Homo sapiens: one gene and its partners. The protein of the gene in region 1 purifies or fractionates together with the protein of each later gene. This does not show direct contact. Each region holds a gene or a part of one and is shown in the gene's direction. Other genes may lie near its edges. The genes, in order: CD19, CD9, MINDY3 and CD82.

The links.
Region 2: the proteins of CD19 (region 1) and CD9 purify together in Homo sapiens (affinity purification with western blotting; 2 studies listed by BioGRID and IntAct, with this or other methods). This does not show direct contact.
Region 3: the proteins of CD19 (region 1) and MINDY3 purify together in Homo sapiens (affinity purification with mass spectrometry; 3 studies listed by BioGRID and IntAct, with this or other methods). This does not show direct contact.
Region 4: the proteins of CD19 (region 1) and CD82 purify together in Homo sapiens (affinity purification with western blotting, with the first as the bait; 2 studies listed by BioGRID). This does not show direct contact.

Annotation. Positions count from the first base shown.
Region 1 is NC_000016.10:28,932,994-28,940,993, forward strand, and holds the end of CD19 (B-lymphocyte antigen CD19 isoform 2 precursor), read left to right. Parts: coding exon 1-121; intron 122-240; coding exon 241-516; intron 517-2,436; coding exon of another isoform or gene 2,437-2,450; coding exon 2,451-2,561; intron 2,562-3,159; coding exon 3,160-3,208; intron 3,209-3,518; coding exon 3,519-3,607; intron 3,608-4,029; coding exon 4,030-4,143; intron 4,144-4,277; coding exon 4,278-4,382; intron 4,383-4,461; coding exon 4,462-4,530; intron 4,531-4,630; coding exon 4,631-4,687; intron 4,688-4,775; coding exon 4,776-4,832; intron 4,833-5,679; coding exon of another isoform or gene 5,680-5,682; coding exon 5,683-5,775; intron 5,776-5,878; coding exon 5,879-5,970; 3' UTR 5,971-5,985; intron 5,986-6,147; 3' UTR 6,148-6,349; downstream 6,350-8,000. UniProt on the Homo sapiens protein: Functions as a coreceptor for the B-cell antigen receptor complex (BCR) on B-lymphocytes. Decreases the threshold for activation of downstream signaling pathways and for triggering B-cell responses to antigens.
Region 2 is NC_000012.12:6,222,277-6,232,404, forward strand, and holds part of CD9 (CD9 antigen), read left to right. Parts: intron 1-1,692; exon of another isoform or gene 1,693-1,942; intron 1,943-1,987; exon of another isoform or gene 1,988-2,093; intron 2,094-3,149; coding exon 3,150-3,258; intron 3,259-3,862; exon of another isoform or gene 3,863-4,084; intron 4,085-10,128. UniProt on the Homo sapiens protein: Integral membrane protein associated with integrins, which regulates different processes, such as sperm-egg fusion, platelet activation and aggregation, and cell adhesion.
Region 3 is NC_000010.11:15,776,294-15,782,255, reverse strand, and holds the end of MINDY3 (ubiquitin carboxyl-terminal hydrolase MINDY-3), read left to right. Parts: exon of another isoform or gene 1-22; intron 23-29; coding exon 30-101; intron 102-1,289; coding exon of another isoform or gene 1,290-1,379; exon of another isoform or gene 1,380-2,407; intron 2,408-3,114; coding exon 3,115-3,264; 3' UTR 3,265-4,082; downstream 4,083-5,962. UniProt on the Homo sapiens protein: Hydrolase that can remove 'Lys-48'-linked conjugated ubiquitin from proteins.
Region 4 is NC_000011.10:44,617,641-44,623,964, forward strand, and holds the end of CD82 (CD82 antigen), read left to right. Parts: intron 1-521; coding exon 522-725; intron 726-999; coding exon 1,000-1,083; intron 1,084-1,408; coding exon 1,409-1,486; 3' UTR 1,487-2,718; downstream 2,719-6,324. UniProt on the Homo sapiens protein: Structural component of specialized membrane microdomains known as tetraspanin-enriched microdomains (TERMs), which act as platforms for receptor clustering and signaling.

The DNA of each region.
Region 1 (8,000 bases):
CCTTCCGGGAAGCTCATGAGCCCCAAGCTGTATGTGTGGGCCAAAGACCGCCCTGAGATCTGGGAGGGAGAGCCTCCGTGTCTCCCACCGAGGGACAGCCTGAACCAGAGCCTCAGCCAGGGTATGGTGATGACTGGGGAGATGCCGGGAAGCGGGGGTCCAGAGACAGAGGGGAGGGGAAACTGAAGAGGTGAAACCCTGAGGATCAGGCTTTCCTTGTCTTATCTCTCCCTGTCCCAGACCTCACCATGGCCCCTGGCTCCACACTCTGGCTGTCCTGTGGGGTACCCCCTGACTCTGTGTCCAGGGGCCCCCTCTCCTGGACCCATGTGCACCCCAAGGGGCCTAAGTCATTGCTGAGCCTAGAGCTGAAGGACGATCGCCCGGCCAGAGATATGTGGGTAATGGAGACGGGTCTGTTGTTGCCCCGGGCCACAGCTCAAGACGCTGGAAAGTATTATTGTCACCGTGGCAACCTGACCATGTCATTCCACCTGGAGATCACTGCTCGGCCAGGTAGAGTTTCTCTCAACTGGGAGGCATCTGTGTGGGGGTACTGGGAAGAAGTGGAAGCCAGTCAATCTTAGATTCCCCCAACCCGAGGGCTACTCCCAGCCTCACCCCAAACCCCAACTTCCACACAGAACACTGACTCCAAGTCTTTCTTTTTTTTGACAGAGTCTCGCTCTGTTGCCTAGGCTGGAGTGCAGTGGTGCCATCTTGTCTTGGCTCACTGCAACCTCCGCCTCCCAGGTTCAAGTGATTCCCCTGCCTCAGCCTCCTGAGTAGCTGGGATTACAGGTGCCCACCACCACGCCTGGCTAATTTTTTTTTTTTTTTTGAGACGGAGTCTTGCACTGTCACCCAGGCTGGAGTGCAGTGGCACGATCTCAGCTCACTGCAACCTCCACCTTCCAGGTTCAAGTGATTCTCCTGCCTCAGCCTCCCGAGTAGCTGGGATTAAAGCCTGGCTAATTTTTTTTGTATTTTTAGTAGAGATGGGGTTTCATTATGTTGGCCAGGCTGGTCTCAAACTCCTGACCTCGTGATCCACCCGCCTCGGCCTCCCAAAGTGCTGGGATTACAGACATGAGCCACAGGGCCGGGCCAAGCCTAATTTTGTATTTTTAGTAGAGATGGGGTTTCTCCCTGTTGGACCAGGCTGGTCTTGAACTCCTGACTTCAGGTGATCTGCCTGCCTTGGCCTCCCAAAGTACTGGGATTACAGGCATAAGCCACCGCACCTGGCCTAGACTTCAAGTCTTTCTTCCCTCGCTTCCAAGACACTACTTTTCTGGGTCTTCACCTACCATTGCTTGCGCCTGCCCACCAGCTTGGGTGGAGTCTTCCTTCCTCCCCAACTCCTCACTCTTGGAGCCCTGGGCCCTCTTCTTATCCCTGTCTGCACACTTTCCTATTTGAACTTGACTCTCAATGGCTTCTTGGGTCACCATGCCTTGGTGACTCTATTCCAGGCTCCATACTCAGCCATCTCCTGTGCCATTTGATATCCCATGGACACCTCAGGCTCAACAGATACAAAATCAAACTCAATGTCTTCCCCAAGTATAGTCTTCTTGGTGGCCCAGTGTAAGCAGAGGGCACCACCACCTGCTCCCTCGCCCAGGCTAAGAACCTGGGCATCCTTCTTTTTCCTCACCCCGTCCAACAAACTGGTCACAGTGTTCTGCCAATTCTCTCTCCATGCAATCCTATCATGCTATCCTAACTGCAATTCACAAACCCAACCCCAACTTTCACTCCAAACTTGATCCAAGCAATGTGCTGGATCCCAACTGTAACCTTGCAAACTCAACTCTGCCCTTCACTTTGACCGTGACTATCCTTAATTGCAGCAGGAAACTGATCATTATGCTCCCCTCAATCCACACATTGCCTCTGAGTACAGCCATGGTTTGTCCACGATTTGCTCAAAGACACTGCCCCATGTCCTGTGCCAGGGTCTGTGACAATCCCTGACCTCCTGGGACATGGCTCCTTAGAGAGAGGAGAGCCTTTCTCACAGCTTGGGACTTTGAGTCTGTGTCTTTTTTTTTTTCTTGAGACGGAGTTTTGCTGTGGTTGCCCAGGCTGGAGTGCAGTGATCTCGGCTCACTGAAACCTCCGCCTCCCGGGTTCAAACGATTCTCCTGCCTCAGCCTCCCAAGTAGCTGGGATTACAGGCACCCACCACCATGCCCAGCTAATTTTTTTGTATTTTTAGTAGAGATGGGGTTTCACCATGTTGGCCAGGCTGGTCTCGAACTCCTGACCTCAGGTGATCCACCCGCCTTTGCCTCCCAAAGTGCTGGGATTACAGGCGTCAACCACCGCGCCCGGCCGAGTCTGTGTCTTGCCTCTGTGCCTCAGACTTGCGGTTCCTTGAGATCTCAGGATTGGGACGTAAGATGCCAGCCTGGGGTCCTCGTCTCATAGCCCCTTCCCCCTAGTACTATGGCACTGGCTGCTGAGGACTGGTGGCTGGAAGGTCTCAGCTGTGACTTTGGCTTATCTGATCTTCTGCCTGTGTTCCCTTGTGGGCATTCTTCATCTTCAAAGAGGTGAGTCATGTCCCCAGTGGGTCTGTCCAAACCCTACTCCATCTTCCCCAGGATAAGCCGGCTCTGGCCAGTCTGACAACCATCTTTCTTTCCTCCCATCCCTCCCTTCAAGACCCCAGAATCCTGTTCTCCCCAGTCTTCCTCTAGCCTCCCTCAAACTTCCCAAGCCTCTTGCAATTTTTTTTTTTTTTTTGAGACAGGGTCTCATTCTGTCACCCCAGCTGGAGTGCAGTGGCACAATCTGAGCTCACTGTAACCTCTGCCTCCCAGGCTTAAGTGATTCTTGTGCTTCAGCCTCCCGAGTACCTGGGACTACAAGTGTATGCCACCACACCCGGCCAATTTTTTATATTTTTAGTAGAGACGAGGTTTCACCATGTTGGCCAGACTGGTCTCGAACTCTTGACCTCAAATGATCCGCCCACCTCGGCCTCCCAAAGTGCTGGGATTACAGGCACGAGCCACCGCGCCCGTCCGCCTCGCAATTTGAACTCCTGTCTCCTTTGTTGAACCAAGTGACCTCCCCAGCACCTGGCCCCACAAATCCTCACCCTGCCAAGCAGCCCCTCCTCTGATCACGCCCTTTAACTCCCACCAGCCCTGGTCCTGAGGAGGAAAAGAAAGCGAATGACTGACCCCACCAGGAGGTAATGCAACCAGTGCACCCCGCGGTAACACCCTCCACCTTCACTTTATGCCTTGCACTTACTGTTTCCTCTGCCCAGGGGTTCTTTGCTCCGTCTCTACTGTTTCAAATACTGCCCAACCTCAAAGCCCAGCTCCAAAGCTACCTCCTCTGTGAAGAACTCCTTGGAAATGATCATCTCAGACTCCTCTATTGGCTGTCCCAGCACAAGTGATCACGTTTAACTTCTGAAGGCCTGGACAGAATCTTGAGTGGGTCCGCCATTCCATTCCAAGTCGGCCCTCACCGTGCACTTCCTCTTCTCCCGCCAGATTCTTCAAAGTGACGCCTCCCCCAGGAAGCGGGCCCCAGAACCAGTACGGGAACGTGCTGTCTCTCCCCACACCCACCTCAGGCCTCGGTAAGAGGCACCGCCCCTCCAGCCTATAGCTCCGCCCCAGATCCGGGGCTCCACCCCCACTCTCCTCATCCCTCCAATCCGCTGTGCGCCAAGCCTTCTGGAGCTCGGAACTCCGCCCCCGGGGCGGGGAGTCCCGCCCAGCTATGAGCCCCGCCTCTAGAACCAGACCCCGCCTCCAGGGCTCAGAGCCACGCCCCCAGGACCCAGAGCCTGAAGTCGTAATCAAGAGCAGAACTTCGCCCCAGAACTGAAGGCCTCGGCCCTAGATTTAGATTCCGCCCCAGGGTTCAAGGCCGGGTTCCTAGACCCAGAGTCCATTCGCAGAGCCCAAAACATCCTCTTCCCGTGCCCCGCCGCGCGGACCCTTAGCCTTGACCGCCCCCATCTCTTCTGACCCCGTCTTACAATGCCCCTCTCACCAGGACGCGCCCAGCGTTGGGCCGCAGGCCTGGGGGGCACTGCCCCGTCTTATGGAAACCCGAGCAGCGACGTCCAGGCGGATGGAGCCTTGGGGTCCCGGAGCCCGCCGGGAGTGGGTGAATGACTGGGAGAGGGAAGGGTCGTTCCCCACATGGAGGGGGTTGGAGCGGTCTGTGGCCCGAATAGTGGACTGGGCCCTGGAGGAGAGGGGGCATGACTCGGTTCCCCATCCCCATCCCCAAACCCCCAGGCCCAGAAGAAGAGGAAGGGGAGGGCTATGAGGAACCTGACAGTGAGGAGGACTCCGAGTTCTATGAGAACGACTCCAACCTTGGGCAGGACCAGCTCTCCCAGGGTAAGGCTGCCCTCCCCCGTGGCCCCCCACCTCTGCGGTGGCCTGTGGACTCCCATGGACACCCCTCCTTCTCCACCAGATGGCAGCGGCTACGAGAACCCTGAGGATGAGCCCCTGGGTCCTGAGGATGAAGACTCCTTCTCCAACGGTAACTTGGGGCCTTTGTGGGACCTCAGAGACTTAGGTGTAATTGCAGCGCTGTGACACTCCTAGAAGGGGTCCCTGGAGTTCTCTCTCTTCTGCCACAGCTGAGTCTTATGAGAACGAGGATGAAGAGCTGACCCAGCCGGTCGCCAGGACAATGGGTGTGTGTGAGGATGGCAACAGTCCAGGGGGGAGGCGGAGGACACCTGGAGGCCAGGAGGAATAGTAACCTCCCTCTTCCCTTTCCAGACTTCCTGAGCCCTCATGGGTCAGCCTGGGACCCCAGCCGGGAAGCAACCTCCCTGGGTGAGAGATGCTTTCAATCAGACTGCCTTGCCCAGCTTGGGTGACCTGGCCTCAGCTCTGACACCAGATCCAACTTTGACCTGACCCTGACCCCAAACCCGAACCCAATCCTGTGACTCCTCTCACCTCAACACTGAGCCCCATCCCCCATCCTGAGCCCCATCCCCCATCCTGACCCCCAATATTTACCCCCTCCCTAACTGTGAATATCAACACCGATCCCAATGCAGTATCAGCCTGGACTTGATCTCCACCTCACCTCAGCCCCAGTGCAGACCTCAACTTGGACCCCAGCTTACTCTGCAGCTTCTTCATGACTCTGACTCCGACTCCCTCCAGTTTCTTCTTTTTCTTTTTCTTTTTTTTGAGACGGAGTCTCCCTCTGTTGCCCAGGCTGGAGTGCAGTTGCCACCTCTGCCTCCTAGGTTCAAGCGATTCTCATGCCTCAGCCTCCTGAGTAGCTGGGATTATAGACGTTTGCCACCACACCTGGCTAATTTTTGTATTTTCAGTAGAGACAGGGTTTCGCCATGTTGGCCAGACTGGTCTCCAACTCCTGGCCTCTAGTGATCTGCCCGCCTTGGCTTCCCAAAGTGCTGGGATTACAGGCATGAGCCACCACGCCCAGCCCAGTTCTGTTCTTGACCCCTTCCTTAGCCATAATCTAACCCATATCTAACCCTGACCCTACAGCTAACTGGGGCCCCAAACTCAATGCTAACCAAATCACCCCTTCCCAGCACAGCATGGGTAATGCTCCTCACCTTCCTCTGCCCCTCAGTCTTCCTCCTTACCGTAGGCTGTACTTCCCATGCCCTAGCCTCCAATTCTCCATCCCCCGCCCAAGCAGGGTCCCAGTCCTATGAGGATATGAGAGGAATCCTGTATGCAGCCCCCCAGCTCCGCTCCATTCGGGGCCAGCCTGGACCCAATCATGAGGAAGGTGGGTGCTTCTGCCGCTGTCCCCTGCTGTCCCCTGGGCTGACTTTGCCTTCCAGCCTACTTCCAGTGCCACCCATGTTCTCCTCCTCCCTGGTCCTATCCAGATGCAGACTCTTATGAGAACATGGATAATCCCGATGGGCCAGACCCAGCCTGGGGAGGAGGGGGCCGCATGGGCACCTGGAGCACCAGGTGATCCTCAGGTGGCCAGGTGAGCTGGGACTGCCCCTAGGGAAAGCGGGGAGGGAGGGAGATAGGCACGGATGGCAGTGGCTGCTGGCTTTCAGGGAGGGAGAGGGAACAGGGTTCCTAGGGCCTGGTGGGCAGGGGGAGGACTGCTGGACCCCTCCCCATCACCGTTTCTTCTGCATAGCCTGGATCTCCTCAAGTCCCCAAGATTCACACCTGACTCTGAAATCTGAAGACCTCGAGCAGATGATGCCAACCTCTGGAGCAATGTTGCTTAGGATGTGTGCATGTGTGTAAGTGTGTGTGTGTGTGTGTGTGTGTATACATGCCAGTGACACTTCCAGTCCCCTTTGTATTCCTTAAATAAACTCAATGAGCTCTTCCAATCCTATGAAGTAGTGCCATTGTGTGGGAAGGAAGGGAAGGAAAGGAAAGGAAGGAAAGGGAAGGGAAGGAAAGGAAGGGAAGGAAAGGCGTCTTGAATCCCATGGAAGAGGGAGGGCTGCCTTCTGCATACAAAGGGCCTTTTCCCGGTGCGGTGGCCCACACTTGTAATCTCAGCACTTTAGGAGGCCAAGCAGGTGGATCATTTGAGGTCAGGAGTTCGAGACCAGCCTGGTCAACCTGGTGAAACCCCGTCTCTACTAAAAATACAAAAATTAGCTGGGTGTGGTGGCGAGCCTGTAGTCCCAGCTACTTGGGAGGCTGAGGTTGGAGAATCACTTGAACCTGGGAGGCAGAGGTTGCAGTGAGTGGAGATGGTGCCATTACACTTCAGCCTGGGCGACAGAGCGAGACTTCGTCTCAACAAAAAATAAAAATAAAAATAAAACAAAGGGCCTTTCCCCTTCCATGGCCTAGCCTTCACCTACTGCCCTCTTTTGCCCGCTGCCCACAGATCCGTCACGATCAGCCCCCTCCCACCATCCAGCTACCCAATTATCATTAATTCAGCAGTTACATGCTGGGTGCCCAGTGGAGAAACAGCCCAGGAATTAGCAGTCTAGTTAGAAGATGCTATTCATTGTCACTGAGTACTTATTTATTGAGCATCTACTATACTCTTCTTTTTTTTTTTGTTTTTGAGACAGGCTCTCGCTTTGTTGCCCAGGCTGGAGTGCAGTGGTGCAATCATGGCTCACTGCAGCCTCGACCTCCCAGGCTCAAGAATTTCTCCCACCTCAACCTCCCAAGTAGCTGGGATTACAGGTGCCCGCCACCATGCCCAGCTAATTTTTTGCATTTTTAGTAGAGACGGGGTTTCACTATGTTGGCCAGGCTGGTCTCGAACGCCTGACCTCATGATCCACCCGCCTCGGCCTCCCAAAGTGCTGGGATTACAGGTGTGAGCCACCGCACCCGGCCACAGCTCATTTTTTATTTTTTGTAGAGATGAGGTCTTGAATGCCTCATGCTGCCCAGGCTGGTCTTGAATGCCTGGGCTCCAGTGATCCTACCAACCTTGGCCTCCCAAAGTGCTGAGATTACAGGCGCCCACTATCACACCCGGATAATTTTGTATTTTTAGTAGAGACAGGGTTTCCCCATGCTGGCCAGGCTGGTCTCAAACTCCTGACCTCAGGTGATCCACCTGCCTCAGCCTCCCAAAGTTCTGGGATTACAGGCGTGAGCCACAGTGCCCGACCTTACTATGTTCTAAGCACTAATATCAATGAGCAAATTTTATCGTTACAATAACTTCACAAAGATAGTAAGCACTTATTATGTGGCAGGATTGTATTCAAATATTTTATGTATATTTTATGGACATGTTATGTATGTTTGTGTATATTCATTCATTTTATCTTTACGACCCTATGAGGTAGGTATACTATTAATATTATTTTCACCATTTCTTTTCTTTCTTTCTTTTTTTTTTTTTTTTTTTTTTTTTTGAGACAGGGTCTCACTCTGTCACCCAAGCTGGAGTGGGTGGTGCCATCTTGGCTCACTGCAACCTCTGCCTCCTGGGTTCAAGCTATTCTCCTGCCTCAGCCTCCCAAGTAGCTGGGATTACAGGCCTGTGCCACCACACCT
Region 2 (10,128 bases), on another chromosome or scaffold:
TCATTCTGTCAGAAAAGGCAGCAGGGTTCACTCCTGATTTTTGTCCAAGTGTTCCCAGTCATGCCCCTGGCCCTCCCTTTTCTCTGGGTTACTTGAACCTTTCTCCTCTCTTATTGTGAGTTGTTAAGCCTGTGAGACCGAGACCTATGGCAGCTTTTCCCATTTCTCCAGAGCCAGCTGCTTTTCCTTCCTGGTTGTAGTGAAATGTTGTAGCTTTGACAACCAAGCCGCATGATGTAAGGTTTAAGGTGGGGTCCGAATGCGGGGGACTCCCGACTCCGGGCTTGGCCTGGCCCTTGGCCAAGATAAGAGACCTGAGATGCTTCCTTTTCCCTCGTGGTTCCAGTTCTCCAGCCCAGCATCCTTCTTACCACCTGTGCACAGAGACCGGATCAATGACTGGACTTAACATATTGGCTCAGGGTCCTCGACATTGGGGCTCTCTATAAGATGGAAGGGGCCTTACCCCTGGAGGTTCCACTGGGGTACCCTGTCATTATCTGAGCGTGGAACATTCCCAGAGAGACGCAGCTCCTGCTCGTGAGAGGCTGCTGTGCAGAGCGTAGCTTTACCTCATCTTACAGCTTAGTTCCTTGGCAGACCTGGGATTGTTTTCGTTCTTTTCTGCGACTCAGTTTTCCCAGCAGATAAGGGGTGGGGTCATAACTTCACTCATCAGGGGAAGTAAGATGACTTGGGAGATAATTGCTTGATAAGCACAAGCCTAGAGCAAAAAGGACAGTAATGAGCACTGTCTCGCTATCTCCCTATGCGCGCAAGAGCATCACAAGACCAGGGCGAGAGGGAGGACCAGGGTGAGAAACAGGTTGTGGCTAAACGTGGACCAAAATTGAGCACCGGCCTACAGTTTTCAGGTTAACGCTTTTATGTCCAGGAGGCCAGCAGCTTCAGTCTTCCATTCCCAGGGGACTGACTGGGCCTCCCTGGGGTTGGGGTGGAAGGAGGGAAGGTATCACCTTTGTACTTTTTTTTTTTTTTTTTTGAGAGGGAGTCTCGCTCTGTCGCCCAGGCTGGAGTGCAGTGGCGCAATCTCCGCTCACTGCAAGCTCCGCCTCCCGGGCTCACGCCATTCTCCTGCCTCAGCCTCTGGAGTAGCTGGGACTACAGGCGCCCGCCACCACGCCTGGAGAATTTTTTGTATTTTTAGTGGAGACGGGGTTTCACTGTGTTAGCCAGGATGGTCTCGATCTCCTGACCTCGTGATCCACCCGCCTCAGCCTTCCAAAGAGCTGGGATTACAGGCGTGAGCCACTGCACCCAGCCCACCTTTGTACTTTTAATGCTCAGGGACCTGGGGGGGGACCCAGGCCAGGACTTGCCATGTACAGAGTCAAGACCGCCCAGTGTGTGCTTGTCTAGTCCCTTGTGTACGTGAATTCAAGCCACATAACTCTTCTAGCCCAGCACGCTCCCAGCAGGGCCCGCCTCCCCGCCTAAGCTAACTGCAGTGCTCTTGGTCGGGGAACCCATGGTCTGAATGCGAGTACCCTGCTGGGTCCAGGACGGTGGAGACTCACGCTTCTCCCCAACCAAACAGTGATCTGCTTGCTGCCTTTGGATTAGGCCAGGAGACCCTCCCTCACTGGCCTTTTATTAAGAAAGAAAATCAGACTCGTCTTTGAACTCAGAACTCTCAAGTTCATTTGAACTCTCAAATTCTTGTGCCTGTGTGAGTTTTTCTCCTCTGCCTTGTCCAGCCGCGGGGCATGTGGCGTCGTACAGTCCTTACCAATGTTTGGAGCTGCCTGCCCTAAGGTGCGGCTGAGAGGCTGAGAAGATGCTGAGTGACAGTCCACAGGCTGGGAGTGCAGGGCTGGTGGGGCTTCATGCTGGTAAAGTGAGGTGGTTCTCCCAGAGCCCATTTGGTACCTTCCTCTTCAGATGCACTTCTGATATTATCTTCTTTATTCTTTAGCCATACCTAAAAGGCAGGGAAGGGCCGCATCTCACAATCCCTGCTTTACAGATGGGAACACTGAAGCAATAGAATATGAAGCTAGACTCTGCAGCCCCTCGTGGTGGAAGCACACCTCCCTGGCAGGAGCAAATCCCCTTATGCTCCTGGGGGGTAGGTGAGTTTGTGACTGCTGCAGGCGGAGGTCTGGGTGGCCCTTCCCACTATTGCCACATCTGCTGTCCACCCAACATGCCCACACTCACTGCCATATCGTAAGGGAAAGGAGAGGAGGAAAGGAGGAAGGAAAGAGAGGCCTGTCCACACCATGGGCTATCAATAGCTCCTGGAGCCGAGAACCAAGGTCCCTGATGAGCGGGCTCTGACATAAGAGTGCCTCTGTTGAGGAGGGTGGACCAGCAAAACCTGGGCCCACCCACTCCTGCGTCCAGCCGGCTACCACACTGGAGGCCTGTGAGTCACTCCCCCGGCAAGCCCTGGTACGGGTGACGACGAGGGAGCTCAGCTGGCACTGGGGGGACTTGGCAGGAGGCCTCCTGCACAGCATCTAGTTCAGCAGTGCCAGCGAGGGGAGGCCCTGGCATGTCATTTACTGAGCAGCAGGTCTCCAGGGACATTGCAGCTGCCCTCCCTGGTGCATGTGTGTCCGGAACTGTGTAACCATCACCCAAGTCAACAGTTAGAATACGACACCCCCAGCCACATGGCACCTCCCTGAGCATAATTTCCTCCTCCACCTAAACATCACCACTCACCTGATAACAATGCTTTTCCTTTATCATTTATAGGCACATGTAAGCGTCTAGCTCTGTGTGCATCCCTAAACAGCATAGCGTTTTTAACTACATGGAATCATATTGTGTGTGTGCCTGTGGCTCTGGCTTCTTGGTTTAGCATTGTGAGATGCACTCATGGTGTTGCGTGTAGCTAGAGTTACTCGTTTTCACTGCTGTATAGTGTTCTGTTGCCTATAAAATACCCCTTCAGCCAATGGGCGGCAGGTAGGTCACTGTTTATTCCTCGCTTGCTGGTATTTTTAGTACCTGCATGAATCAAACACACCCCGTAATGGCATCTACAACTACCAGGCGTATATGAGGGGCAGAGACCAAGGGTGGTCACAAAGTCCTTTGCAAGTCTCACCCTTAAGCGCGTGGGGACTGTGTTGTTGCTGGCAGCCAGAATTAATGCTGATGTCCTGTATGTCTTGCAGCTTGCCGGGATTGCTGTCCTTGCCATTGGACTATGGCTCCGATTCGACTCTCAGACCAAGAGCATCTTCGAGCAAGAAACTAATAATAATAATTCCAGCTTCTACACAGGTGAGGGACGGGGAAGGCTCAGTGAATTCAGACCCTGGCTCCAACAAAGTTCCTGCAACTTTGGAGGCCCCATGTTGACCCAGGGACTTGGGCTTGGGAAAGACTTTTGCTCTAGCCACGCTGGCCAGTCGTGTCCCTTTCAAGTTGTGCAGTTTTTGTGTGTGTCGTTGTGCCTGGGAATTTGCGTTTAACTGATGTGGTTTCTTTTCCTGATGGCCAAGTCAGGCATGTTGATGGTTCTCTGATGTGATGTAGCCTCTGCCAAAGTTGTACTCATTCTTGAGGGTTTACGAACCTCTGTTCTCATCTCTGATGCTCTCTCCTGATTGTCTTCTTATCCTGCATCATTTCCTTAATTCAAAAAGCTTTGTCCTGGGGATCTGCAGTGCTGGAAGAAGATATAGACAGCTTTCCTCTTCACTGTTCAGATAGGGACTCTGAGACTGGGAAAAACATCAGCCTCCTGGAAAACACAGCAACAATAGGAGAGACTAGAATGGACTCTGCCCAGTCCTTTGGACCCCTGGTACTGGGGTAAATGCTGTAGTGTTTAGTTTTATTTGTTTGTATTTGACACGACTTTTGCTTTGGGAGAGAGGCTTCCAGTTTAAACCTGCCTGGGATCCTCTGAACATGAACAGACTTGGCAGGTTTCTTTCTACACTCAGGCTTCTTGGCAGCCTTGCTAGACCATTCTATCCCTCTCGTTGCCGTATCACCACGTCAAAGCTCCCTTCAGAGGAGGGGGAGCCTGGTGCCTGCCAAGTGCAGTTGCCCGCGTCTGCGTGAATTCAGACTCTGCGGCTGTACTCTGCCTGGCTTGGAGGTAGGAAACTTTTCATTTGTGAGGAACAAAGGAAACCTCCTATTTTTAGGATGACGCTGACATGTTGTCAGGCTCAAAATGTAAGTTTGGTCACTTCCTTCCCACCCACCAAAAAAGTTATTTTTACAAACGAGGGAGAAAACAGTTATCTCCCAGTCCCTCAGGGAGAAGCAAGGCTGGCCAGCCACGTAGACCTTCCCTTTCCCACCTCTTGAACTGGGTAGGGAGAGTCTTTAAAAACAGCTCCTTTGGTTGCGTAACATTTGAGCCCTGTGGATAGTTTTGCTGGGTTTACTGCTTTTTATTGTTAGCTGGGGTTTTTTGGGGTGTGTCTCTCTATTATCGGAAAGAAAGTGAGAGAAAGCACAATGTATGTTTAGAAAAAAAACTACACATACACACAGAGTTTTTGGGGAACAGGTTTCTATAGCGCCCTGACTTGTTTTGGCAACAGACCATTTTTTGGGAGTCTGTGACAGGCTTAGAATGCTGTCCTGCAGAGCAGGAGGGAGGAGCCGGGTGCGGGTGCTGGGGAAGACTCTCCACACTCCACGCCGTGTTCCAGAAGGGAGCCCTGTGCTGGGGGAGCAGGTCTGCCGGCAGGAGCAGGCACAGTCAGGCCTGCTTTCCTAAGCAAAAGCCCTGTGGCCGGCGCGTGTGTCTCCAAAGAGAGACTCAGTCCTCCCTTGTCCTGGCTGCTTCTAACAACCCACTTTTTCTTTTCTGTTACCCAAAGCCTCTATGGCTGATTCTTTATATTTTTAGATGTGGGAGTTAAGAATCTCATGGGTAAGAGGATGGAACTGGGAGGAAGACACTAACATTTTTATTTTTTATTTTTTTTATTTTTTTTTTGAGACGAAGTTTCAATCTTGTTGCCCAGGCTGGAGTGCAATGACACAATCTCGGCTCACCGCAACCTCTGCCTCCCAGGTTCAAGCGATTCTCCTGCCTCAGCCTCCTGAGTAGCTGGGATTACAGGCATGTGCCACCATGCCCAGCTGATTTTGTATTTTTAGTACAGACGGGGTTTCTCCATGTTGGTCAGGCTCGTCTCCAACTCCCGACCTCAGGTGATCCTCCCGTCTTGGCTTCCCGAAGTGATGGGATGACAGGCGTGAGCCACCTCGCCCGGCTGGAAGACACTAACATTTTTGAGCCCCCTTCTTTGTGTGTCATTCATTGTCTTGTGTGTATTATATAATTTAATCCCCTTAGCTCTACGAGGAGTGTGGAGTGATTCTCATCTCACAAGTGCAGAAACCGAGGCCTAGAGAGCTGAAATAACTTGTCTAAGCTTATATTCCCTCAAGAGGCAGGGCCAGGTTTTGAACCCAGGCCTAAAAGAGCTGCTTCTCGGGTTGTCATTGCCAGGTTGTGGGGTCTCCCTCTGTAGGAATGGAAGAGGTCTGTACTGGCTGAATGTGCCCCATTGGCAGGGATGGGGTGGCGCTGTCTTGGCCCTTTTACTTCACCCAAATTGCAGTCAGGGAGAGAAACCCCTGCGTCGGTGGCCCAGCCAGCAGCTGACAGGTGGGAAAGCTGCAGGGTGGCAGGAGAATGGTGAGTGCCATTAGAGGAGCTGGGGCTCACCTCTGGGAACCTCACAGGATTCAGATCCTGCAGGTCATTGCAGGGCCCTGCTGGTGGCCGGTGGTCCTACCTGAAGTGACCAGGAGGGTGATTTGAAGGCACAACCCCAAAGAGACACAGATCCCCTAGTTGGGGTCTAAGGGCCACTGTCCACTTAGCTCTGCCAGGGAAATACAGATCCTTTGCAGCGACACCCCATTCGGGGAAGAGAGCGGAGCTTTGAAGACTTCGTTCTGCCTGCAGAAGCGCCGGCAAGGGGGATGATGCACGGTAAAGTTAGAACAGCAGCACTGTGTCTGGGCACAGTGATCAGCCCTGATCTCAGGTGATCCGTCCGCCTCAGCCTCTAGCACTTTGGGAGGCCGAGGCAGGCAGATCACCCGAGGTCAGGAGTTCGACACCAGCCTGGCCAACATGGCAAAACCCCACTTCTACTAAAAATACAAAAATTAGCTGGGCGTAGTGGCGTGCACCTATAATCCCAGCTACTCGGGAGGCTGAGGCACAAGAATCTCTTGAACCTGGGAGGCAGAGGTTGCAGAGAGCTGAGATCACACCACTGAGGCTCTGTCTCCAGCCTGGGAGACAGAGCGGGACTCCATCTCAAAAAAAAAAAAAAAAAAAAAAACAGCAGCACAGCACTCTGAGCACTGCTTAGGTCTGAGCTATGCCCTGAACGTCACTGAACGCTTTAGGAAATAATAATTGTCGTCCATGGGCAAAGGGCCAAGGAGGCGTCGCTCTGTGTCCCCTTCCCCACGAGGCTGTGAGACCAGCCTTCTGTACTGGCCCAGAGCCCTTCTCCTAGCAGATGAGCTTGGAGTGCCAGCCACACCCTGGCTACTTTTCCAAGGAATAGTCATGGGGTGACCGCCCCTTGCACTGGGCCACCAACTGTCTGCAGAGCAACCCACAGGCCAGCCTGACCATGCAGCTGACTTTTCAGGAAACCTGAACAGCCCAGGGGTGTCTTTTCTCCAGTGGGGCCACAGCTTACCAAGTAGAGAAAGAGTATATAACCAGGCAGAAAAGCAAGTGAAAACCTTTCCAACATTCAGAACAGTCTATGGTAAGTCCAGAGCAGCTGACAGCCTTATATGGGCCTTCTCTCCAATCCAGGCCTGGAGATTCAGCCCGTCAGCAAGATCCCTAATCCCAGGCTGCAAACTTGTTGGGGAACTTCATTTTCTTGGTCCTAGGCCAGCAGCCTTTCCCAGCTCCCTGGTGTCCCTCCAGAACCATGGCTGCTGAATGAGGGCATCTAGGGGGGCTCCAGCCAGAGGCCGTGAATGCCCCCCCTTCCTCGGCCAGCCCCCTATCCATGATGAGGTGCCTGGTGATTTTCAGGACACGCGACACTTGGCCTTAGTAAGCTGGCATCCCCATCCTGGCTTGTGACCTGGGGCAGTTCATTTTATTGCTCTGGGCTTCATTTTTCTCCCTCCTGAAACCAGCACAGCTTACACAACCACAGCACAGCTTACACACCCACTCCCCTCTGGGGCAAAGAAGTACAGCGTGTGGCAAATGGAATTCCATTGTGGCACTTATTCCCGTGAACTCGGGAGGGCGGGAACCAAGACGAAACCAGTCGGGGCAGAGGTAGGGCTCCTTTGAACACCTGGTGGAGTTATTTGGATATAATAAACTTTTATTGCAGGCCAGAGGCCCTACCGGATTTTGTTCTCCTTCACACAAACGGGCGTGGTGAGTGCTGTTTGCAGGACAGAGCTGGTGTAGGGACGGGAGCCTGCTGTGTCCTCTCCCTGGGCTAAACTGAGAGCCCTGGTGAACAGTGAAAAACACTGTTCCATTTCTTGTGTAAAGGACACGCTGGCATATGCTACTGCTGCTACACCAGCCTTTCTTTTTTTTTTTTTTTTCTGGGCCTGTAATGTCAGCCTGAAAAAAGCAGAATAAACAACCCTTAAGCAAATTAATACCGTAATCCTAGAGAAGGCTCTGTGATGGATAACTTTTTCCATGAGTCAGACAGCAAGCTAACATTCGCTTGTTTTATAAAGGGGAACACTTTGTCATTTATCAACAGCAGCCTTGGCTAACAAGCTTGGGGTGTAAGCGATGAGTAGCTTCTCCAAAGGGAAGCACTGAATAGCCCTTGTAAAAACCAGCCCGAGCCCTGCAGTGGTTCCGTGACTTCCATGGGGCCTGCTTCCAGATGAGCTGTCCTGTAGCTTGCCGGCTGCTGCTGAGTCCCCGAACACAGCTGCCAGGGGATCGCTTCCCTTTTCCCGTGACTAGAGAGGGCTAAAGCTAGGCACTGCAGATCCGTAGCCATCCACGCAAGATTTAAAGCCCACAAAACCCGTGATCCTAAAATCTTCCTCTGCTGAGCCCTAGCATGAATATTTAATATTAACCACAAGCCCCATTAGGAGCATGTTCTCTTTCTCTGCGTGGGAAATACTTTCTCTTTAGTAGCTCACTTGCAGCTAATCCAATTCCCTTGGCCTCTGCCAGGACCGCCAGGTTCAAGAACTGGGATCTGGACTTAGAGAAAACATGTCTGCCTGTTCGTTCCCACTCCACGGTATTTCATGTGTTTGTAAATCCTTTTGATCTCTTAATACCTCCTGTTTATTCAGCCCCTGCTATGGAGCTCAAAGGAGTGACCTCATCCTTCCTTGACTTGCCCCCATTAGATGGGGAGAAACTGGGGCCTTTCTACTGTCCCCATGTGAGAGAACCAAAGGAGGCTGCCCTCTTACCCAGTGCTCCATGCATGGGGCTGCACAGCCTCCCCAAGCCCAGCTTGTGGCCTCAACAGCGTTTGACTGCCCAGGAAGATGCGACCTGACTTGAGGACAAGCTACATTTGTCCCCTTGCCCAGTGTGGGCCAGGCATGCACAAGAACAATACCCATATTCTTGCAACATGGGGTTTGCCAGTAACCCCACGTGACTTGACCTCACGACGGATGTGGGGGAGAAGGGGGAGGAACAAACGCTCTCTGTGTGCATTCTGCTCTGTGCTGCCCGTGAGCCTCAGCTGCGGGCAGACTGCATGGTTTGTTGCCTGCAAAGTCTCACCCCTGCTCGGGGTGCAGATGTGGGACAGTGAAGTCAGCGTGTCACCTGCCGAGGGTTCTCATCGAGTGTCCTGCTGTGTATTGTGGGGAAACATCACAGACTTTCTCTCTCGCGTGCGTGTTTTCAGCCCCTACATCAAGGATATCTCTCTGGTCCCAGTGAAAGGACAGTAGGGATACAGCAGCAGGTTAAAATTCACCATGGTGATTATTAATGATTGTTACTCATGCTTGGTATAATTGAGATTAACAACAGCTAGCATTTGTTGTGCACATGTGGATTATATCACTTAATCCTCACAGCAATCCTGGAAGTGGGCATTATTGCTACTCCTGTTTTACAGATAGAAAACTGTTGCACAGAGAGGTTAAGTGGCTTCCCCAGAGTCACAGATCTGGTGCTCTCGACATGTGACAGTAGCCTCTCCCAAGGCTAGATAGAACATGCCTGCAAGACAGGGAGGCACAGAGACTTTGCTGCTGGTTTTCCTTTGGGACCCATGTAGGGCTGGGGTGCTGATTAAGGGAATAGTCCCTGCAGGACAGCTGTGGCTTCTCAAGAATAGAACTGTGGGGTGGCCCCTCTGGGCATTCCTTTGGTGGGTTGTGGAACGAATGGGGCCAGTGCTGCTCTACTGTTTGTGTCCCAGGAATTTGCATTGTTCTGGGTTTGGGCAAAAGTTATAGAAGTTGCTGCCCTTCTCTCACCTCCTTTCCATGAGCCACTCAGATCAAGGGCTTAGTAATGGTGTCACTCATCCTCTCCTTAGCAAGGAGGAGCCTCTTCACCCTTAACCTGCAATAACTGAGTTATGACTGTTAAGATCTTGTTAGCATGCTATAGAGATCTTTTGAAATTTCCAGGAACATACCTCTTTAATTTTACTAGTAAGGAAATTGAGGCCCAGAGAGGGAAAATGTCTTACCCCAGGTCACACAGCAATTAGCATCAGTGTTAGGGCCAAAAGAAGGGTCTTCTGACACCCAGATCTGTGTCCTTTGCACTAGAGTCAGGTATTGGACCTTTGCCAAGAGGTGCCTTTGGGTGTTCCTAACTGTATGTGCCTAACCACCACCCAGCAACAGGGCAAAGAGGCCCGCCTTCTGGGAACAGGCAGAGTTGGTTCCCCCCACCCCTGGGTAGGGGGGTGCCTAGGTGTGCACGGCCCCTTCCTGCTGGAAATCTGCTCTGACAGCGTCCTCTGTAAGGCAGGGTCCCAGAAGTTAGCCAGAGTGTGGAAGGTATATGCTAACTAGCTTGAGTGGATTCATCTTGCTGGAAAGAGCTGACAGACTGGACCAGTTTGCATTCCGAATGTAGGGATTCCCGTGGATATTCTCTGTCCTGGATTGAGGGCTAATGGGCACCTTCCAGAAGGGCTGAGGGTAAGGTAGGAGCGT
Region 3 (5,962 bases), on another chromosome or scaffold:
AAGTGTTAATAGTCCTTTATTTATAATAGGGCTCCAGTGGTCCAGAATCTTTTACTGTCTACCACTACAATGGATTGAAGCAGTCAAATTATAATGAAAAGGTATGATAATTCACGTAGTCGTCGGTGTTCAACTGGGTTGATGAAATAATTATGTGAGTATGTAACAATGTTCGATTCCCGTACAATTGCTACCTAAGATTATTCCAGGAGTCTCTTTACTATGAGGACACATTTTAGAATCAGCCATCTTTGGATTTGACCAGTATATGTTAGTCTGCATTGGAAACTGACATTGGACTTCAGAGCAGTAGTTTCACCATGACTAAATACACCCCCATACAGATCGTTACCCTTGGCAGTGTAGCGTGTTTCTAAATCAACATCGTAGTTAGTCCAGTGAAAGTTGTTACTTATCCATTTAAAGGAAGAAAGAGGTAACAGTGAGACTTTTTACTGGAAAAAATATTTTTAAATAAATAACCTTCATAGTCAGCATATATTGAGCATTTACCCGAAATTGTATTAAGTACTTTGCTTAAGTTTCACAGCACCTTATGAAGGAAGTGTTGTCTGTATATCTCCATTTTACAGGTCAAGCAGCCAGGAAATGACAGAGCTGGGAGTGAAACTTAGTCCAGCTCAGAGACCATGCTCCTACCCATGATGCTTTGCAGCTTTCCTTTGCTAACCGTTGACAAAGCACATAGGTGATTCACTGCCAGGTGTACTCAACCTGGCGTAAAGCTAGAGTTCGGCTGCATTGATTTCCCCTTTTTGTGTGTCTATTATCTTTGCATTTATTCAAGTATGAGTTACAGTACATACTAGTTATAGTATATATATATATATATAATATATATGTATTAGTTATAGCTAATATTAAAGGAATAAGGTCTAACATTCCTTTTTAATTTGATCTGCCCATGCTGACTTCATGTATCTAAATTGTGGAAGGTTACAGAAAACAGTGTAAATTAAGTACATAATTTTAATTAGACCAAATCTAAAAGACTAAAATTTACTGCTATCTTTATAACAAAATATAAATTAGATGTTTTTGTCAGGTCCAAAGATATATATATACAGCATCCAAATTTTCTTGACAATGTATATTCTTTGCATGTATATATATATGCAAACTTGGATGTTGTTTTCTAATGTGCGAATGAGTGCTTCATCTAGAGTTTGATGTTTGCACAGCTTTGTAATAGGAGGTACTTTATAATCACTAATTATTCACCTACACAATCCCTGCAAGATAGGTCAAATATTATCCATATTTTACAGATGAGGCATCTGAGACGGGGAGATCAAGTGACTCACCCAGGGTCACACAGCAAGTCATTGGCAGAACAGGGATTGGAACTGAGTTCCTGATTCCCAATCCTGTCCTTGGTCTGCTTGGCCACTCTACCTGTATGTAGTATAAGTTTTCAAATCATGTTTGTGACAAGCTTCTGACACACCAACAAAAAGATTAGAAAACAAATAGGATGAACTGTTAAAATGACAGTAATATACAGCAGCTATAAAGCAAAGTATGGATGTCATTAAGTCACAGAAATATGTTTTGAAGTTAATCAGGAGCTAAAATTATAAGCTGCATAGCAAGGTCCTGTTAGAAAGGAAACAGACAAAAGGAGAATGCTGGCAAAGTGAGATGGAGTCTGAGCCGCCAGGCATCCGAGCCTGATTGAGGCCATGGAGGTGGGTCATGGCACCTTGCCCAAGCACTTCTGCTCTAATGACATGAGTACATGAAGTTCTTTGTGAAAAATAGGGCCGATTGTATTTAACTTAATAACTTGAATTATATTCTTTGTGTATAACTTTTCAGAGAAGGCAGTTTTGCTTTGGGGACTGAAAAGCCCGAGTTGTAGTTTCAATGTCAATTTATTTCATCAACACTAGAAACTAATATATTAACTAAAATAAAGATGCCAAAAAATGTATTTCACGTTACAATGTATCTTTAGCACTTTCTTAGGAATGAGTAGATTCATGACACAAGATTATCTGATCTAGTAATATATTCTATTCCTATATTTAATGTGTTTTAGAGGCAACTACCATTTAAGGATAATAAAGTTGTTTCTTTTGGCTCCTTAAATAGCTTATGGCTTTTATTTTGGAAGAACATAATTACACTCATGTGTATCAGCCAGTGAATGTGTAAAAATAATTTTATACACTTTGGAAGAAGACAGTCGTCTGTATCTGTTTCTTTTAAATTATACAGCATCAGAATTTCTCTTGGTACAAAAAAGAAATTAACCACCAAGGAGTGCCTTAATGTCCACAGTGAGCCCTTGGTAATGAGTTAGGGTTTTTGTTGATATGTCCAAAATACTTTTTAAGTATGTTTCATTGTAAATTAATCAGAATAAAATTTTTCTTGCTATTCACCTGCCAGTATATATTTCTGTGATCACTGCCACTGCATATACAGTATCTGGTTAGTTTGATCTTTCAACGTCTCTTTTACTTTTCTTTCTGTCCTGACATCCTTTTTAATTTTTTTCTCCATGATTTTTCATGCTGTACAGAATGCACTCATGAATTGCATTTCAGGAATATTTAATACCATAATAGCAAGTTTTGTTGACAAACATTCAAATTGGTTTCAGCTCTAGAAATTCAATACTTAAATTAGAAGGAGACACATGTTCCTCAGAACATAATAGCTATATTCCTTTTATAGCTCTCCGTTTCATTAGGCAGCATGAGCATCTGAGAACCTCAGTATTAAAGCAGTAGGACCTGTATAAATTATATGTAAATATGATAATTAAGCATTTCTTTCCGATGGTATAGATCCGTTGAAGAATGTTTTTTTTCTTAGAAACAATCTATGTGTTTTAGGATTCACATGATCTTGAATTTTTTAAAAATCACCTGGCCAGCTAGCAATTAAATATCGTTTACAAATTTACTTTCACATTAATCAGTAAGCAGATATTCCTTCTCATTTCTAGCAAAATAAAATTACATGTCAAGTTTCATCTGAAACTATGTAATACCTTATTTGCTAGCCTCTAAAAATTGTTTTCATTCCACATAAGAATTTGCTAAGACTGTTGCTTGACCTTGGTGGCTTTATTTTGTTCAACAGGTCATGTACGTAGAAGGGACTGCAGTTGTGATGGGTTTTGAAGATCCCATGCTACAGACAGATGACACTCCTATTAAACGCTGTCTGCAAACCAAATGGCCATACATTGAGTTACTCTGGACCACAGATCGCTCTCCTTCACTAAATTAATTTGTCTAAGTATTTATAAGGAAGATCTTAATAACAGATGTTGAAAGAAGGAGTCAAGACTGGCAATTGGCTGGATTAAGCTAAACACTGGTATCACTGATTAACTGTAAATAACAATTAAAAACACATTTTCAGTGTTTATGATATGTTTAAATTATTTGTCCTAAAGCTTTATGTTAAAGATTATCCTATTTTACCCCTTCGTGTGAAATTTACTAGCAAAATTAAGCTTTCATCAAAGTTCATCACTTTTGCATTCAGATACTTGGTCATTTACTTACCAAATTACAAACGCAATACTACAGCATTTGTATATTAAGTATCACAGTTACTATTGATAAACTACTTTTGGGTTTTATTTCATTGAGGCACTTTTTTTATTGTTTGAATGATTCCGGCTTGTAATATATCAGCCTCTACAATGAAATGCAGAAGAGTTCATTTTTCTAAGATCTGTTTTTCATTAGAAATATTGACAAATAACACATTGTCAACCTGGATCCTTTGACAATTTACTTAACTCTGGCATGTTCACAAAAAGTAGAAACTCTAAGAGACCATTACCATTTATTCACAGATGTATAGGGGATGTATTCTAAAAACTGACAGAAAAGAGAATCTGATAGTCAACACTGTTAACTTTTACTGTGTAATTGCCAAATACACTTTTCCAAATTTGTCCCAACAGCCCTGTAAGCCAGCTTTCTTCTATATTTATAAACACGATAAATGCATGAGAAGATCTGTTATTACATTAGTATATTACGTTATTTATTATGATCCTAGTTGATGGCCTAAATAAACACCTTTTTCTTTAACTGTACCCTTGCATTTTTTACATTGGTGGCTCAAAATAAACAAATACGTACTTCTAAATGTTTCTACCCAATAACCCTGAGAGCACAGAGTACTACAAATGGCTAAGTCATACAGGACCTCGAATAAGAGACCAGGCCTTATGCTAACCTAAGAGCTCTGCTAACTCAGCCAGCCAGAAGCATGAGAACCCACATGGCAGCTTTCTAGACCAGTGAGCAAAGATGCAGAAGCCCGTTTACTTGAGAGAGAGATCTGCTGTATTCTGATAGGTTTGTGGCCCAGCAATTTAAAATCACATAGCCATTAATACTTTTTTTCCTCCACGTGTAAAGCCACGTGTAAAGCAGATAATTATGTAGTATCCTCTTACACATTTCAGAACTGAACATTACCTTCAATAGTATAGTTCCTGTGTGAATTTCTGTTTGGGTTTTGTTTTCTTTCGTACACACACACAATTACAATATAATTAAGCATAGGGAAAGGCATGAGATTTTGTGTATAACTTTTGGTGACATTCTGTTCAGGAGTATGATACTACTTATTAAACTTACAGCTTTCAAATGTCAATATTTTGGTCTAGGCTACTTCCAAATCTGTATAAAATATATAATGCTAGAATTAGTTTCTCAAAACTCTGGTTTAATAATCCCAAATTCCAAAAGGATTACACAAAATCGTAGATTGTCTCATAAACATCAAGCCTATGAAATAGAATGGTCCTCTTACCATTGTTACACAACAAATCATCCCAAAACTTCATGGCATAAAACAACCATTTGATTAAATGTACAAATTCTTTGCTCAGGAATCTAAACGGGGCAAGGTGGGGATGCATGGCTTGTCTGCTTCAGTCAGCAGCCAGGGGCTAGAATTTTCTGAAGCTGTCTCTACTCACGTGGCAAGCATGACTGGACCTTAGCTTGATATCATTGCTGTAGAACACTACATTTAAATAGCCATGGGAACATTTCCTTTCCACATGCACTTGGGCTGCTTACCAAACTAGATTATATGCTGGCAATAAAGTAAGTCTAGAAAATCTCAAAAGATTGGAAATTAAGTGACACACTAATGAATTACCAAAGGGTCAAAGAGAAATTGCAATGGGAATTAGAACATACTTTCTACTGAGTGTTAATGAAAATATGACATAGCAAAAATAAAGGAAATATATAGCATTAAATATGATATATTAGAAAAGTAAAACATTTGAAAATTGGGAACCTAAGCTTTTATCTCAATAACAAACCCAAAATAAGAGGAAGTAAATCCTAAAAGAATATCCATATACAAAAGAATGAATTTGGATCCCTACCTCACACCATTTGCAAAAAGTAACTTAAAATGATTGATTATATATCTAATTATAAAAGCTGAAACTATAAAATCCCTAGAAGAAAACAAAGGAGTTGATCATGATCTTGGGTTAGGCAATGGTTTCTTAGATAAGATACAAAACACAAATGACAACAAAGATAAATTGGACTTAAAATTAAAAACTTGTGTGTGTCAAAGGACACCCTCAAAGTGACATGACAACCCATAGAGTGGGGAAAATATTTGCAAATTATATTAAGGGATTTGAATACAGTATATATAAAAAACTGATAACAACAACAACAAAAACTTTTAAATGGACAAATGATTTGAAGAGACATTTCCCCCAAAGAAGATTGGTCCTTAGAGAAACACCAATTGATCCTTAGAAAAATACCAGTGAAAACCATAAGATATCACATCATAGTCATTAGGATGGCTAAAATAAAAAAGATCTGCAAAAGCAAGTGTTGGTGAAGATGGGGAGAAATTGGAACCCTCATACATTGCTGGTGAGGATGTAAAATGGTGAAGACACGTCAGATAAGAGTATTGTAGC
Region 4 (6,324 bases), on another chromosome or scaffold:
GCTCAGAGGCAAATCTCAACTCCTGCACTAAAGTTGAACGGCCTTTCCTAAGCTTATTGTGCTCCCCACACCTATGCTTGGTACTTTGCCTGCCTCATCCCATTTAGTCCTTGTGATAGCCCTGTGAGTTGGGGATTTTAATTATCCCCATTTACAGATGAGGAAACTGAGGCTAGTTCCTTGATGGAGGTTGCTCAGCTGGTAGGCGGCAGGGCTGGGATTGTAACCCAGTAGCCTGACTTTAAACCCTGCACTGTGAACTGTCTGCCGTCCATTCTCCTTGTGCCCTGCACACCTGCGCTCCTTCAACTTGAACTTCCTTCCTACTCTGCTTTGTATTTTTGCTGGTCCTGGTTTTGATTTTTCTGCTGTACTTGTAGTTTATGATGGTTCGGCTGGGACCAGGGGCCTGGAAGTGGCATATCTCAGTCTCTGTCCTGGGGAGGTCCTCCCTCTGCCAGGAGGGCAGCCTGCCTAGGGTGAGCCGTGAGCACAAGCAGTCTGTCCCCTGCCTTGCCCAGGTGAAGTGCTGCGGCTGGGTCAGCTTCTACAACTGGACAGACAACGCTGAGCTCATGAATCGCCCTGAGGTCACCTACCCCTGTTCCTGCGAAGTCAAGGGGGAAGAGGACAACAGCCTTTCTGTGAGGAAGGGCTTCTGCGAGGCCCCCGGCAACAGGACCCAGAGTGGCAACCACCCTGAGGACTGGCCTGTGTACCAGGAGGTGTGCGGGGGGCTGCGGATCGGGGGCGGGGCTCCGAGGGCGTTGGGGGCCATCTGGGCTACTGCTCAGCAATTCCTTCCTGCATTTAGTTCCTTCCCTTAATTCATCTGTCATTTGTACCTTCATCTACTTCTTTGTTAATGTATTTATTCAAGGAACAGGCAGAGCCCTCTGTAGGGGCTTCCGGGCTGGGACTGGGGGGCTCTCGGTGGTTCTGCATGGCGGGGTGGGATGGTGCAGAGCGGGGTGATGTGACCGCATTCTGCCCTTGCAGGGCTGCATGGAGAAGGTGCAGGCGTGGCTGCAGGAGAACCTGGGCATCATCCTCGGCGTGGGCGTGGGTGTGGCCATCATCGAGGTCTGAGCCCCCTCCCCCATCCCTTCTCCATCCCAGGTCCTCCTGGGTTGTCTCTGTTCTGCTGATCTCCTTGGGGAGGTGGTGGCCAAGGGGGCCAGCACCCCATCAGCTTCCAGAGGCCCTCTGGTCTGAGCACTGTCTGGCTGTGTGACCTCAGACAAGGCACTGCCCCGCTCTGGGCCTCCCTCTGCTGCCTGCATCACAGGGTGGTTGTGAGGCTCAAGTTGAGGATCCACTTAATCCCCATGTAAACCTGGATGGTGAGGCTGGGGCGTCTGAGGCCGGGACACCCAGCCTCCCTCTGACTCTCCGCCTCTCCCCACAGCTCCTGGGGATGGTCCTGTCCATCTGCTTGTGCCGGCACGTCCATTCCGAAGACTACAGCAAGGTCCCCAAGTACTGAGGCAGCTGCTATCCCCATCTCCCTGCCTGGCCCCCAACCTCAGGGCTCCCAGGGGTCTCCCTGGCTCCCTCCTCCAGGCCTGCCTCCCACTTCACTGCGAAGACCCTCTTGCCCATCCTGACTGAAAGTAGGGGGCTTTCTGGGGCCTAGCGATCTCTCCTGGCCTATCCGCTGCCAGCCTTGAGCCCTGGCTGTTCTGTGGTTCCTCTGCTCACCGCCCATCAGGGTTCTCTTAGCAACTCAGAGAAAAATGCTCCCCACAGCGTCCCTGGCGCAGGTGGGCTGGACTTCTACCTGCCCTCAAGGGTGTGTATATTGTATAGGGGCAACTGTATGAAAAATTGGGGAGGAGGGGGCCGGGCGCGGTGGCTCACGCCTGTAATCCCAGCACTTTGGGAGGCCGAGGCGGGTGGATCACGAGGTCAGGAGATCGAGACCATCCTGGCTAACATGGTGAAACCCCGTCTCTACTAAAAATACAAAAAAAATTTAGCCGGGCGCGGTGGCGGGCACCTGTAGTCCCAGCTACTTGGGAGGCTGAGGCAGGAGAATGGTGTGAACCCGGGAGCGGAGGTTGCAGTGAGCTGAGATCGTGCTACTGCACTCCAGCCTGGGGGACAGAAAGAGACTCCGTCTCAAAAAAAAAAAAAAAAAAAAAAAAAATTGGGGAGGGAAGGGCGTTAGATAAGGCACTCTGGGCTGTCAGGAGACTGCCTACTGGGTGGGTCAACTTATTTCCCACTATGACATTTATATCTTTATTTTTCACAATTATATTGAAGGCAGTGGGAGAGGGGAGAGGGTGGGTTTTACCTGATATTAAGGGGTGGCACCCCTTCCCCAGGCCTGATGCAGGTCCATCTAGACAGCTCAGATTAGCCTAGGCCATGCCCTAGGGACACGGCCTAGGGGAGCTGGGCTGGAGGGGGTCTGCCTGGGTAAGGGGATCTGGCTTGGCCCTGAGCTGCTTAGGGACAGGTGAGTCCTTGGGGGCATGGCACAGAGCTGGTCCTGTATTCTCCAGGGTCCGGAGCTGGCCAGGGGCGGGGAGGAGGAGGATGGCTTCTCCTGGGAGAAGGTGGGCTGGCCTTTCTTGGCAAGCGGTCCTCTGGCCCCTGGGGAGTGGGGTGGGTGAGGCTGTGCCTTGTAGGGGGAGAGGGGAGGGGGCTTTGTGTGCACCATTCTGTAAAACACACTCAAGATTCTAAGACTATTAAAGAGGATTTATAACAGTCTAGTCTGGAATGGTAGGGATGCTGCTTCCTGGGGCAGGGGAGGACCCAGGGCAGAGGGTGTGAGCAGAGTGGCTGGGTCTGCTGGAGACTGCTGGACCCCTCACTGCTCTGCCCTCCCCGCAGGCATCTGCTTCTGCAGCCTGAACCTTAGGACCGTGATGGGCCAGGCTCTGATGGGCCTGCCTGCATGCCGGGGTGCCTGGAGTTTGATTTGGTGCTAAGAGAGGTATAGATTGTACCTCTCAATTCCTGCTTCTGAAACTAGGGTATGGGTGCCCCCAGAAGCTGCACAAAAGTGGGCTGGTGATGGGGGACAGGGAAGCCACAGGATAAACTTGGCATCGCTTTCTAGAGCATCCGTTTCTGCAAAGATTTGTGGAAGGAAACATTTTCATACTAAAGAAATGTGATGGAGTAAGATGTGCAGAATTCAGGGGACTTTTTAAGATGAAATGTGAGACTTTGGGAGGCTGAGGCAGGTGGATCACTTGAGGTCAGGAGTTCGAGTCCAACCTGGCCAACATGGTGAAACCCCATCTCTCCAAAAAATACAGAAATTAGCCGAGTGTGGTGGTGCACGCCTGTAATGCCAGCTACTCAGGAGGCTGAGAAAGGAGAATTGCTTGAACCCGGGGGATGGAGGTTGCAGTGAGCCAAGATTGTGCCACTGCACTTCAGCCTGGGCAACAGAGCGAGAATCTGTCAAAAAAGAAGAAAGGAAGAAAAAGAAAACGACAGAGAGAGAGAGAGAAAAAGAAAAAGAAGCTTGCTCTTACTTGTGCACGGCTCTGACGACTGAGCCCCAGCATGCCCCTTGCCCGGCGTCATGAAGTCCAGAGGGCACTTGCCCCACCTTCTCTCATTTCTGGAGCCAGTGGGGAGGGGAACTCTTGCCTCCCTGCAGTGGGGCCAGGCGGGGCGGCGGCTAGAGTGGTGTTTCAGCAGGGACCACCAGGCGGCGCTGCAGCCTCAGCCTAGGAGCCCGGCAGAGCCCAAAGGTTCCGTGGTTACTCCCAGTTTCGCCAACGCGGGGCCTGCCAGCGTCCCACTCCAGTGGAAGCACTTGTGAAAATGCAGATTCCAAGGCTCAAGGATTCTGGCGCTGCAGATCTAGGGTGGGGACAAGGAATCTGCCTATTTGCACCCCTTTGCGTTGATTCCGGAAGATTTTCAGACCTGGAGTAATGTCTGTCCCAAGCCACGTGATGACCTCTCAGCGAATGTGGCAGCTGAGGAGGTGTCAGCGGTGGGGTCGGCTGTGGGTCCCTCTGTGGCCTTGGTCGCCTCCCTCTGGGATGGGGGCAGGAGAGGAAAATGTCGATGGTTCCACCTGGCCTGACTTCCCTGGCCCCCCACAGCTTCCACCCTCAGGAAGGGTAGCAGAGAGCTGTTGGGTGTCTTTTCATAAATGCTTTCTCACTGGGAGCAAGGGGACCTGAGTTTGAGTCCAGCTGCATCTCCATCTTCCTGTGCGACACGGGGCCTGGCAGGCTGAGGGTGGGCTCAAAGCTGTTTGCAAAATAGAGGACTGAGAAAACGTCAGAAGTTAGCGAAGGGGTGGGCTGCTTCCTCTGACACGTCCATCCTGCCCAGAGCTCACAGCTGGAAGGGGCCAGAGCCAGGATTTGAACCCCACGTATCTGACTTCAAAGACCATCCTCCTGGCTCCACTGGCTCCTGCCCTTCCAGATTTCCCAGAACAGCCCCAGGACGTGTGTAGTGTGAGGCTCTGACCCTCGCTTTTGTGAAATCTGGTCACTGTGAGCTCTGAGCCTGCTGGGTTCCTCATTTCAACCTCCTGGGGAGCACCCAGTTTCAGCAACCCACTTACTCCCAGCCTGTGAGGTTTTGGGAGGGAGGGAACATAGACCCATGTCTAACACTCAGAATCGTCCCTGCAGCCACTAATCTGTCCCATGCCCATCTGGGGCTTCCACACCTTCCAGCTGCCCTCCCTGGGCCCTCTGTGGGCTGCCATCTCTCCTGCCAAGGGCCCTGACAGGCCCAAAGGACTGGCACATGGGTACCATGTGGAGGAGAGTACAAGGGTGCTCCTTGGCAGTGCCCACCCACAGCTCCCTGGGGCAGCCAGGAAGAATGGCTGGAGCAAAGGGTTGCTCTTTGGGCTCCCGTGGGAGGTTAGAGACAGTGCCTAGGATGTGTTCAGGGAGCTGGACTTTGGGGGGCACTGATTGGCATGGCCACTGACCAATAGGTATGGAAGTCAGGCCTGAGCTGGAATGGGATCCTTACGTATGGATTGGCGGGAGGTGCAGGAGCTCTGAGAGATTGAGCTGGGGGGGAATTTTCAACTGGTGTGGAAATATTTCTCCATTTTATTCATAATAACTGGTATGGCTGGCTGGGTGAGTACTGGTGAATGGCAGCCTGATACATGTGCACATACATGCATGCACTCTCTCACACGCACACACTCGAGGCCCTGAAGGCCCCTGAGGGCTCAGTCCATTCCCAGCTGGGAGGAACCCTAGCTCTTCTTCCCTGAGACTAAGCCATGGGTGGCCCGTAGTGAACAGGGAAAGCCAAGTGTCTTCCTGCCTGGCCTTCCCGGGCCTACACTGCAGAGCCCCCTCTGCCGCTGATCACCATCCTGTCTCCTAGCAGAGCTGCCTCCAGCCTCTGCCCCAGATGATCTTCCAGGTGAGCAGGTCCCCCAGGCTGAGAGCAGCCGGGTGGAGGGGCACACTGGTGACGCTGGAGCATCTAGCCAACAGGCATCTCCTGGGCCAGCGCTCCCATCGCCTTTCTCCCCTGCAGAAGGACAGAGACCCAGGTTGCTACGCTGCCTCGGGGCAAATGTCTGGCTGTTCTCTGGGGTCTTTAGAGGCTGTAGGCTAAGGTTTATTCATTTATTCATTCATTCATCCCATGAATACTTAATGGCACAGACTATTTGTGAAGCACAGTTCTAGGATCTTAGGAACACAGCAGTGAACACACACAAACCCCCTGCCCACATGGCACCTGCATTCTGATGAGTGTAGAGACTCTTGCACACAACTGATGCACCAGGACACACGTGCACACACAGCACACGCATGCACACAGCACACCCTGCCACACGTACACAGGTACGTACCAGCACACACTGCCGACTGCTGACAGCACAGTCTGAGCCAAGTGCTGCTGTGGGATCCCTGGGGCCCATCCAAGGCCCCTTCCTGTGGAAGGAAGTAGAATGAACAGCGCGTCGAACAAACAGGAAAGTAGGAGGAAGTGCTCATCGCCCCTGCCACAGTGCAGGAATCAGCCATTGCCCTGGCAATCCCCTTCCCAACTGAAATCAAATAGAATCAGAGCAGCTGCCACTGGACGTGACAGGCTGTGCAACTTCACCTCTCTTAGTCTTATCGGGAAAATGGGGACTCTCATTCCTCACTCCCAGTGCTGTTGTGGGAGCCAAATGCGGTCACGTACACAGTGAGCTCATTCCCCAAGCAGCCCATTCCAGGACTGGCCCCAGCTTCAAGGGGAGGTTTCCCATCCTCTGGGGGATACCTTCCCTGAGTAGGAATGAGGCCCACGGGAGGACTTTGGGCCTTGGTGCCTCCGGGGCAGGGATGGCTGATTGGCCCAAGGGGC